3 linked regions of the Homo sapiens genome follow. The protein of the gene in region 2 purifies or fractionates together with the protein of the main gene of each other region. This does not show direct contact. Each region holds a gene or a part of one and is shown on either strand. Other genes may lie near its edges. The genes, in order: CAMK1D, EEF1AKMT3 and SMC1A.

The links.
Region 1: the proteins of EEF1AKMT3 (region 2) and CAMK1D purify together in Homo sapiens (affinity purification with mass spectrometry; one large-scale study listed by BioGRID and IntAct). This does not show direct contact.
Region 3: the proteins of EEF1AKMT3 (region 2) and SMC1A purify together in Homo sapiens (affinity purification with mass spectrometry; 2 studies listed by BioGRID and IntAct, with this or other methods). This does not show direct contact.

The regions. Positions count from the first base shown.
Region 1 is NC_000010.11:12,356,047-12,359,546, reverse strand, and holds part of CAMK1D (calcium/calmodulin-dependent protein kinase type 1D), read right to left. Parts: intron 1-3,500. UniProt on the Homo sapiens protein: Calcium/calmodulin-dependent protein kinase that operates in the calcium-triggered CaMKK-CaMK1 signaling cascade and, upon calcium influx, activates CREB-dependent gene transcription, regulates calcium-mediated granulocyte function and respiratory burst and promotes basal dendritic growth of hippocampal neurons.
Region 2 is NC_000012.12:57,778,965-57,782,691, reverse strand, and holds the end of EEF1AKMT3 (EEF1A lysine methyltransferase 3), read right to left. Parts: intron 2,438-3,727; coding exon 2,046-2,437; 3' UTR 151-2,045; downstream 1-150. UniProt on the Homo sapiens protein: Protein-lysine methyltransferase that selectively mono-, di- and trimethylates 'Lys-165' of the translation elongation factors EEF1A1 and EEF1A2 in an aminoacyl-tRNA and GTP-dependent manner.
Region 3 is NC_000023.11:53,398,553-53,402,279, forward strand, and holds part of SMC1A (structural maintenance of chromosomes protein 1A), read right to left. Parts: intron 1,179-3,727; coding exon 1,037-1,178; intron 1-1,036. UniProt on the Homo sapiens protein: Involved in chromosome cohesion during cell cycle and in DNA repair. Central component of cohesin complex. The cohesin complex is required for the cohesion of sister chromatids after DNA replication.

The sequences.
Region 1 (3,500 bases), on a different chromosome or scaffold from region 2:
GGTGCAGAGAAAAAAAAAAAAACCGAGAAGCTACCCAGGGGGAGGGCTGAGCCTGGGACACACAGCTAACTAGGTCACTCCAGCACCGGAGCTGGGCCAGAGGACGTTTCAGGCAGAGTCTTTTGCTTAATGCTAGCATTACATGAACTAATCACCCCTGTTGGGAGCAAATGTTGAATGGCTCAGCGGGCCTTCCAAATCTGTGGAAATGGCCTCTGAGGGGCAGGGATAAATGATAGAGAGCGGGCATTGACTGCACACACACCCACGTGCCACACACGGCTCTCAGTGGTTCCCGTGCACCCTCATTTCATCTTCACCACAAGCCTCACATTAGGTCCAAGTGTCATCCTGTTTTACAGATGAGGACATGAGGCTCAGAATGGTAAAATAATTGGCCCAAAGCCATACAGCTAGGAAGCTGTGGACCCAGGATTTCCACCCATATCCGTGTAACCTCCGAGCCTATGTTCTTAGCTACTCACTGTACCAGGAAGAACAACTGTGGATTGTTCTTCTCTGGCTGACTGAAGAATTGTTTATGATTGCTGAAACCATAAATTTTGGGGGAGGTTAAATATGCACCATCCTGCCTATTTGCAACAAGAGCTTCCAAAAAATCAATTTCCAACAGATACTGACGTGTTCTTCCCCAATGGAACCTGCCCCAAATGTCCAAGGGAAGCCAACCTCAGCTGCTGGAGGTAACTACAGCTTGATGACAGTTACTGTATATTCAATCCCAGTTATGTGCCAGGTACCTCACATATGTCACTGAATCCTTACAACAATCCCACAAGGCAGCAACTCCTATCTCCCTCTTAAACTCAGAGAGATTAAGGAATCTATCCAGAGGCATTCAGCTATGAATGCCTGCACCAGAACGATCTTTCTGTTATGTTACGTTGCCTCCTTTACCCGGCCTCAGCAAATATACCCTATCAAAGGCTTGCTCTCAAGGTTCAGTGTTCACCAGGAGACAGAATCCCCCATTTCTTTTTTCTTTTATTTTTTGAGACAGAGTCTCACTCTGTCGCCCAAGCTGGAGTGGAGTGGCACAATCTCGGCCCACTGCAACCTTCGCCTCCCAGGCTCAAGCGTTTCTCACGCCTCAGCCTCCCGAGTAGCTGGGATTACAGGCATGCAACACCATGCCGGCTAATTTTGGTGTTTTTAGTAGAGACGGGGTTTTACCATGTTGGCCAGGTGTTGAACTCCTGACCTCAGGTGATCCACTCGCCTCAGCCTCCCAAAGTGCTATGATTACAGGCATGAGCCACTGTACTGGGTCCCTCATTTCTTTTTTCTTTTCTTTCTCTATGGGGACACGGTCTCTCTCTGTCACCCAGGCTGGGGTGTAGTGGTACCATCATAGCTCACTGCAGCCTCAACCTCCCAGCCTCAAGTGATCCTTCTGCCTCATTCTCCCAAAGTGCTGGGATTACAGTTGTGAGCCAGCACTCCAGGCTGGAATCTCTCCATTTCTAAGTCCTGCTGAAAGATTTGGAAAAACAGCACAAGACACAGAGAACAGATAGCTGAAGATATAAAATGAACTTGGTCTGTGGCGGAATGAACTTGACCTACGGCATGTATTTGGAGGTGACCTTTGATCTAACTGGAGCCTGAATAATCAATACACTGCATAATAAACCAAAAAAAAAGAAAAGAAAAGAAAATCAAGTGAGATCTAATAAAAAACTACCCCGGAGAAAAAGAAATCTCCCTCACCACAGAAAGTCAAAGGGGCATAGCCAACGTGAACCGAGATCAGGCTGGAATCTTTCCCGGAGTCCACGTGTCCTCCTGCACTAAATAAGCACGGAATTGACCATCTTGCATCAGGAAAATAACGTGGGTCCGCTGACTCGGGCACCAGCTTCATGGTGGCTGCCTATAAGCAGTTCCTTCATTAATTAAAGAAACATAATGGCCGAGTGCAGTGGCTCATGCCTGTAATCCCACCACTTTGTGAGGCTGAGGTGAGCAGATCACTTGGCGTCAGAAGTTTTAGACCAGCCTGGGCAACACGTTGAAACATAATCTCTACCAAAAATACAAAAATTAGCTGGGCGTGGTAGTACGCGCCTGTAGTCCTACCTACTCGGGAGGCTGAGGCAGGAGAATCACTTGAACCCGGGAGGCGGAGGTTGCAGTGAGCCAAGATCACGCCACTGCACTCCAGGCTGGGTGACAGAGTGAGACTCCGTCTCAAAAAAAAAAAGCAAACACCTGTAATCCCAGCTACTCAGGAGGCTGAGGCAGGAGAATCGCTTGAACTCGGGTGGCAGAGGTTGCAGTGAGCCGAGACTGGACCACTGCGCTCCAGCCTGGGCGACAGAGCAAGACTCTGTCTCAGAAAATAAAATAAAAACTTAAAAAGTAAAAAAAGAAAACATATCCCCGGTGGGCAAGTTGACCAGTAATGTGACAAATCTCCGCTGGACCCATGCCTAAGCCCTCCCAGAGGAGAGAGGAGGAGAAGCAGGAGGAGAGAGATTGAAGGGGATTTAAGGAGATTTATTTGGGGAAAGGAAAGATTAAAGAGATTTACAGAGACCCAGCCAAAGGAAAACTCAACAAGTTAACCCTTGAAATCCTCCCCTGAGAGCACACAAATCTCCACCTGGCACCAGCAAACCTAATTACTGTCCATTCAGTGGCCAAGTTCGAACCAGAAATTTGTACTTGAGACACAGTCATCATTAGCTTCTCTGGGAACAAGCTCTACCCAAACTCCCACTTCCCAAATCTCATTTTACTAATCAATAAGGACACTGAAGTTTGTTATCTTCACCTTTTCTTTTTTTTTTTTTTTTTTTTTTGAAATGGAGTCTCACTGTGTCACCCAGGCTGGAGTGCAGTGGCACAATCTCAGCTCACTGCAATCTCCACCTCCAGCATTCAAGCGATTCTCCTGCCTCGGCCTCCGGAGTAGCTGGGACTACAGGTGCACAGCACCACACCCAGCTAATTTTCTGTATTTTTAGTAGAGACGAGGTTTCACCACGTTGGCCAGGCTGCTCTCGAACTCCTGACCTCAAAAGAGGAGGTACCTCAAAGTCCCTCTGAGAATTTCACCTTCAAATTCAGAAATCCCTCCCCAGGGGAGCCCAGAAGCCCAAGGCTGTGTGCTTGCCCGTTTCCAGAGCCTCCCAGCACACGGGCACCCATAATGTGTAGACAGAGCAGGTGCTCCGAGAATTCCTGGGGAAACTGAACAAAACCACCAAATGAACTGTTCGTCCAAGCCCAGGTCCTTGGGGAATCTCACACCCCACATCCAGTCCACCAGCAATTCCTACCAGCTCCACCTTTAAAACACATCCGGAATTCGGCCAGGTGAGGTGGCTCACGCCTGTAATCCCAGCACTTTGGGAGGTGGGGGCGGGCAGATTTTTTTTTTTTTCTTTTTGAGACGGAGTCTCACTCTGTCGCCCAGGCTGGAGTGCAGTGGTGCAATCTCGGCTCACTGCAAAATCCCAGGCAGGCTCCCACAT
Region 2 (3,727 bases):
GCCACCTGCTGGCCGGAGGAACACAGTCCTCGCCTCTACTTGATTTCTTGAGACGACACATTTCATACGGGAATTACCCCCCACCTCCCACCCCAGGTAAAATAACAGAAACCAAGAAATAAAGTCGTCACAAAACAACAACACAAGAAATGTGGGTAACATTTTATGTTTATTTTCAATGCGCATTTATATTCATTATCCATTTATGACTCACAACAAACTTGTGTGGTTGGTGAATGGGTTCGAGAATTTGTCCAAGGTCACCTAGGAAGGCAGGGGTGGAATCCATTAAACAAAGCGAGTAAATATTTATTGAATGAGCACAATATCTGTTGAACACCTGTTGTGTGCCAGGAACTGTGTTAGGCTTCAGGGGTTTAGACAGGAGTAAACCACAGCCCTACCCTCCAAGGTAATTTAATGGTGAGAAAATGAGAATCACAAATGTCCATGCAAGACAAATTAAGGTCCCATAAGATGAACCTTATGGGTCTCAGGGAGAAAGAAATCACATTCAAGCAAGAGGCTCAGGAAAGAGGCAAAGAATAATGAAGATTTTGACAGGTGGCAATAGCCTTTCAGGCAGAGGATTATCATAAAGAGTGTGAAAGAAGTCAGAAAACTTTAGTGTGGTTTTAGAGAACAAAGAGTACATCTTTTGTAATTTGGCCAGAGGTCCAATACACGTAGCAAAGGAGTAGGAAATGCAATAGGAAGGTAATTTTGGATCACATGGACACAGACTAAGTACCAAGCAGAGGAGCTTGTTCTTGCTTCTACAGGAAGTGAAAGCTAATCAGAGCTAATTTTGGAAGATCACAAGAGTTTGCGGAATGGACTGAAGGAGAAAGCATGGAAGCAGGGAGTCCAGAGAAGGTGACTATGTGCCTAAGCAGTAAGTAAAGAGAGCCCCAACCAGAAGTACCAATGTGGGAAGAGAAAAGAGGTTAAGGCAAAACACATTAGGAACTGTGTTAGGCTTCAGGGGATTAGAGATTAGGAAGGAAGGACTGATGAAGCTAAAGAAAAATCAAAGATGAAAAGAACTTAGTACTAGGTACAGTATTCTTCTGCACACAATGATGTTCCGTGATCAAGGCTCTAACTCTGGAAAGCATGAAGAAATACAGTCCAAAGGACAGCTCTGCAGCCTTAGCTTCAGAGCTAGGAGGACTTGACCCAGTTAGAGCCATGGTTCCACTAGACTCTATCTCTAAAAAGCAGGAAATGGGTGGTTTGAGGCTTCTTCCTTCTCAGCTCCTGAGTAAAAGTTGGGTTCTTGCACAATAGATTTTTAAGGCTTAATTCTTTCTTAAAAAAAAAAAAAAATCCTAGGCTAGCACAGTGGGCCATGCCTGCAATCCCAGCACTTTGGGAGGCAAGGCGGGTGGATCACTTGAGCCCAGGAGTTTGAGACCACCCTGGGCAACATGGCGAAACCCTGTCTCTACTGAAAATACAAAAATTAGCCGGGTGTGGTGGCGCATGCCTCTAGTCCCAGCTACTTGGGGAGCTGAGGCAGGAAGATCATCTGGGCCTTCAGAGGTTGAGGCTGCAGTGAGCTGTGATCACACCACTGCACTCCAGCCTGGATGACAGAGTGAGACCCTGTCTCAAAAAAAAAGAAAAAAAGAAAAAAAAATCCCACAGAATTTTTTTAAAGTCCATTCTGTGTAAACAGCAACAGGAATGGAAGTGATCAGTGACAGTCTGTCTACAATCACTGCTCTCACATCCCATATATCTCCCTTACCCCCTAAAAATCCTGGATACCTTACCATCCTCCTTCTCTGAGAACAGGAGCCAGGAACCTCCTTGGTGTTCTAACACTAGTGCTGCCAGAACTCTGGGATTCCTTGTAAGCAGGCACCTCACTGCACCTGCCCAAGAGTATCTGGGGTAACAAAGAGGGAAGGAGGAAAGTGAGAGAGGCCAGGGAAATCCATCCTTTTTGGTCCTCATGTTTGTGGCTCTGGAAATATGGTTTTTGAGATACACAGTTCCTTCATTAGAGCAAGAGATTGAGAAGAACAGCAAGGGTGATGTCAAGCAGGTCTTGGTTCCCTGTGCCTGGCCCTATAGATGTTGACATTTTCATCCTCATCCCGCTGAGCCAGCTCCAGTTGGAAATGCTGGGGCAGGAGGTGCTGAAAGAAGCTCTCTGTCCCATGCTCCTTTCTCATCTTGGAGGCCAGATAGATGGTGCCATGGGGCCTGCACAGGTGTTGGAGGGTCCCCAGCAGCAGAGGGAAGGTGGGTTCCAGGTACACGATATCAGCCCCCAGCACCAGGTCATAGTTTGCAGGGAAGACATGATGGTCAATCCCCCAGGACAAGGCACGCACCTGGGCCTGGCCTCCAGCTGGCACATTGGCCTGGACGTTGCCCTGGATCTGTTCTAGGGCCAGGGGCAGGTCAGTGATGGTAACATCCCCCCCTGAGAGAGAGGAAGGAGGAAAAATGCAAGTCAGAGGAACCAACCAAGGGTTCTTGGCTCCTGCCTGGAAGGTCCAGAGACCTCAGAGCATAGAGGACAATGTCTTGACAGCCCAGAGCCCACACTGGCTTTTAGTTGCCTCAACCTCCATTTCACCCACTGCTATTCTCATTACTCTACATTCTACAACATCAACATTCTCTCTGAGCTAATCTTCAACCTCTCTGGCCAACACACAACAATCAGATGTCAGCAGAAGCCTGGGCAGGACTAAGCTGGAGATGGGTTCTGTACCCACCCCCACTGACACAAGCTCGCCTTAAGGGTCTGGAAAGCTTCCCAGAAAATGTGACCTCAGCTGAGCCCTAAAGGACAAGTAGGAGTTAGTCAGGTGGAGCTTTCCAAGAAGAGAACAGTGAGTACAAAGGCCTGGGAGTGAAAGAGCATGGCATATTCAGGAAAGGCTGCATCTTAGAGGATGTGGAAGGGGGAGAAAAGTGTCAAGACATGAGACAAAGGGAAAGTGATTATGACATGCTAAGAAGATTCAGGTTCGATACTGAGGGCAGTAAGCTTTAAGGGCAGAAACGGGTGAAGATGGTCAGATTAGCATCTCAGAAACCTTCATTCATGCAGTAGATATAATTTGGAGAACCTTCTAAGTGCTGGGTATATAAGGTGAGCAAGACAAAAACACAGCTTTCTTTGTTTCATTCTAGAGGTAGAGACACACTAGGTACTGCATCATAATCATGATGACTATGATAGAAAGAGAAGCAAGAAGTACTAGGAATCCATTCATTCATTCATATTTATTATGTGCCTATATGCCAAGTGCTGAGAACATAATGATGAACTAAGAAGATAAGAATCCCCCCTCACAGAGCTTATGGTCCAGTGGCAAGAAACAGATGATAACAACAAACAAAATAAATAAAATAAAATACACTGTACATCAGATGGTAATATATGCCATGGTGAAGCCCCAAGCAGGGAAGGGGGATAAGAATTGCTTGAGGGATGGGGAGAAATGCAAGTTAGAGGGACCAACCAAGGGTTCTCGGCTCCTACCTGGAAGGTCCAGAGACCCCAGGGCATAGAGGACAAAGTCTTGGCAGCCTGAATGTAATTTTAAATTGAGTGGCTGGAGAATGAAATTTTAAATTGAGTGGTCAGACCAGCCTGACCAAAATGGTGAAACCCCATATCTACTAAAAATACAAAAAAATTAGCTGGGTGTGGTGGCGGGCGCCTGTAATGCCAGCTACTAGGGAGGCTGAGGCAGGAGAA
Region 3 (3,727 bases), on a different chromosome or scaffold from region 2:
TTTTGTTAGTATTTAATTTTTAACTTTGTCTTAGCATTTGGTTAAGTGTTCTAAGTATATATATTTATATATACTTAAGTAACATCACGGATTTAAGGCAACACTGGCAATCTTAGGGACTATTTTTCCTTTAAAAAGGGTCTGTGTATTACTAAAGTTTGAAGACACTACATAAATAATGTTACAAACGTAGCATGATTTGCTAAATTCCCACTTTCCAAGGGGCACTGAGTAGTTTCCAATTTGGAACTATAAATAATGCTTGTTATAAACATCAAAGTGTTTGCATAAAGCTTTGCCAGCATTTTGGATGATCTCCTCAGGTACTACTGAGTTACAGAGTATAAATGCATTGTGAAGCTTCTTGAAGGATGGTGCCACATTACATAAGAATACTCGTCTCCTGGCCAGGCACGGTGGCTCATGCTTGTAATCCCAGCACTTTGGGAGGCCGAGGCAGGTGGATCATGAGGTCAGGAGTTCGAGACCAGCCTGGCCAATATGGTGAAACCCCGTCTCTACTAAAAATACAAAAATTAGCTGGGCGTGGTGGCAGGCACCTGTAGTCCCAGCTGCTTGGGAGGCTGAGGCAGGAGAATGGCATGAACCCGGGAGGCGGAGGTTGCAGTGAGCTAAGATAGTGCCACTGCACTCCAGCCTGGGCAACAGAGCAAGACTCCATCTCAAAAAAAGAAAAAAAGAATACTGGTCTCCTATACCATGGCTGGTATTGAGCATTGTGTCTTCTGTTTTTACATTTTCCACGATGTGTTACAAAATACATTGTATCTAATTGTTGCTTTAATTTGCATTTCTTTAGTAAGACTAAATTATTTGTATGTGTTTAGGGACTATTTGAAAGTCTTCTTGAACTGTTTGTGACATTTATCCATTTTTCCCGTTTAGGTCTTGGTATTTTTCTTATTGATTTAGATGAGAAATTTCTAAGTTGTGGACATTATCCTTCTGTCTGTCGTATTTCTTCCCATTTTTCCTCCCAGTTATTAGTCTGTCTTTTAATTCTTTCCTTCCTTACCTTTTTGAGCTTTTCTATCTCATTTTCATCTTTTTTCACTGTCTGCTCCCACATGTGTACTTTATCTTGGTCCTCCTTCAGTTGGTTCTTTTCAAAATCCAACTGAATGCCCAAGCGAGTCTTCTGATTCTCAAACTCCAAACTGTGTATAAAGGTGGGGGGAGAATCACTCATAATCTCATCAGCCAGAGATAACCAATGTACAAAATCCAACTATGGGAAGAAAGGGAAACTAGACCCAGGGCTCAGGGACCCAGAGTTACTGATTTTCAGTCACAACTTGCTTCATCCATCCATATGCACATAAAACGGTCCCCTGAAGCTGAAGAACTAAGTTCCTCAGCCTAGCCCTGTGGACATGGCATAAGGCAGGGAAGATTCGGCCAAACCTTATTTATCCCCCTTTAAACAATGAAGACCCCAGCGCCCTCCAAGTTCCTACAAGGAGGCATAAAAGAGTCCATCTGATTCTACCAGCTATGGTAATTCCTATTAGGCTTCTATGTACTTTACATACATTATCTCTAATCCTCTAATCAACAGCTCTGCAAGTAGGCATTATTATCCTAATTTTACAAATGAGGAAAACTTAGGCCAAGAGGTAAAAGACCTTGCCCAAGGCCACACAGCTAGTAAATGGCACATGTGAGACTGAAACCCAGATTTAACACCAAAACCCGGGCTCTTTCTAGTATACCACCACTGCAACATAATGTAGTGGATTAAGAAGACTGGCATCTCAACTCTGCCACTTACTAGTAATGTCATTCAGGCAAGTTGGTTATACTCTCCAGACCTGTTTCCCCATCTGCAAAATGAACATAATAATAGTACCTACCTCAGGGTTATTGGGAGATTTTTAAATGAGTTAATATGTATAAAGTCCTTAGAACCACACCGAGTCCACGATAACTACTCAATCAATTTTAGTTACCATTATCACCAGGTATATTGACTGTACTCAGCTTACTTTTGTCCAAGGGCTTCAACTACAGCATCCCAACTTCTGCCCCAAGGTCCCAGAACCTCTTAAAGGGCAGAACTTGGATAGTACAAAAACATGGAGAAAATACTGGATTCCTGCTATTGTCCTCCTCTCCATCTCTTCAGAAACTCAAGAGTATGCAACCAGCATACACAGGCACTGGCAGGCCAGGCAGGACTAACTTCCAATTGCCCTCTCCAACTCCCAATATGGTGTGACAGATGTTGCCAGATGTCATGCTAGCAGCTTAAACCTATTAGCCACTATAATCCAAATGAAATATAACTAACTCTATAATTTTGAGCTATGCAATTTTATATCCAATCTCCTAAGTATGACTCACAAAGGCCTCTGTGATCCGGCCCCTGCTGACCTCTCCACCACTCCCCACCTTCTTCCTGACCCTGCTTTTATGCTCCAGACATTAAAAACTACTTAGTATCCAGAACAAGGCATGCTCTCTCACACTTCCAAGCATGCTGTTCTCTCTGCTTGGAATTCACTTTTTCTGTCGCTGCCTGGCTGGCTAAATCCTACTCACTCTTCAGGTCTCCAGTCATCACTCCCTGTTTTGTAAAACCTTTCCTGACGGTTCTGAGCAGGTTCCTAGTTTCTATTACACTTTGTTGGGTTCCTCCCTTTTTAGACTTTAGGTGCAGAAGCAAGTTAATCATATCCCACAGTTCATAACACACTTATCACCACTGCCTGGGCAAGACCCTTCCCTTGTCCTCTTTGTTTCAATCCCCAATTTCCATTCCCATTACCTTCCCTACTGTGAACATGCACCACAAAGTGACATACACACATGCATTCCTTAAAAATGCATATCCTTGTAAAATGTCTTAGTTCTAAAATTTACACAAATCTACTGTGTTATAAATTTTATTCTTTTTTCTGGTCAATACCAGGTTTATAAGTTATCCATTACTGCCCACAAATCTAGTTCTTGCTGTGAACTCCCACACAGTATTCCAGTCTATATATTCATTTGACTTATGCTCCCCCAGTAATGGCCATCTACATTGCCACCAATGTCCCACTACTACAAGTTATGCCAAGATGAATGACACTGAATGTGTATCTCTTTGGGACCCTATGGCAAGACTCTCTCAGGGATATATACCCATAGGTTTTATATATGTGTATATATATACATTATATATATACACATATATTTTTTTCACATACTACACAGGACATCTATAGATTTCCACCTAATACTGTCAGACTTTTAAATTTGCATTTCTCTGATTAAGAGGTTAGACCTCAATTCCTATGGTCATTAGCCACTTGAACTTCTCTTTCCATGAAAGCCTATCTATATTATTTGCCACTTTTTTTTTTTTTACTTTTTTCATTGCATTGGGTATCATAAGTACTTAGCCACATTTCCATTGGGTTTCTTGTCATTGTTTTTTATTTTTCCTGTTGTTGATTTGCAGTTCCTTGAAAATTTCTTCAGTATTTTGTATCTACCTTAATTACACCATTGATCACACTGTCCTCAAATTGATGTTTCCCCCAGTACTCTATATGTTTCCTGAGGAAAGAAATACAGTCTGATTCAATTCTATATCCCTTGAGACTGGCTTGAAGTAGGACAGCAATGAATATTTACTGTATGGGCAAAGGGCTAAACTGCTAACTGAAGCCCAGGGTACAAGGGATGACCTCCTTCAGCAAAGACTGTGTTGTGTTCATCT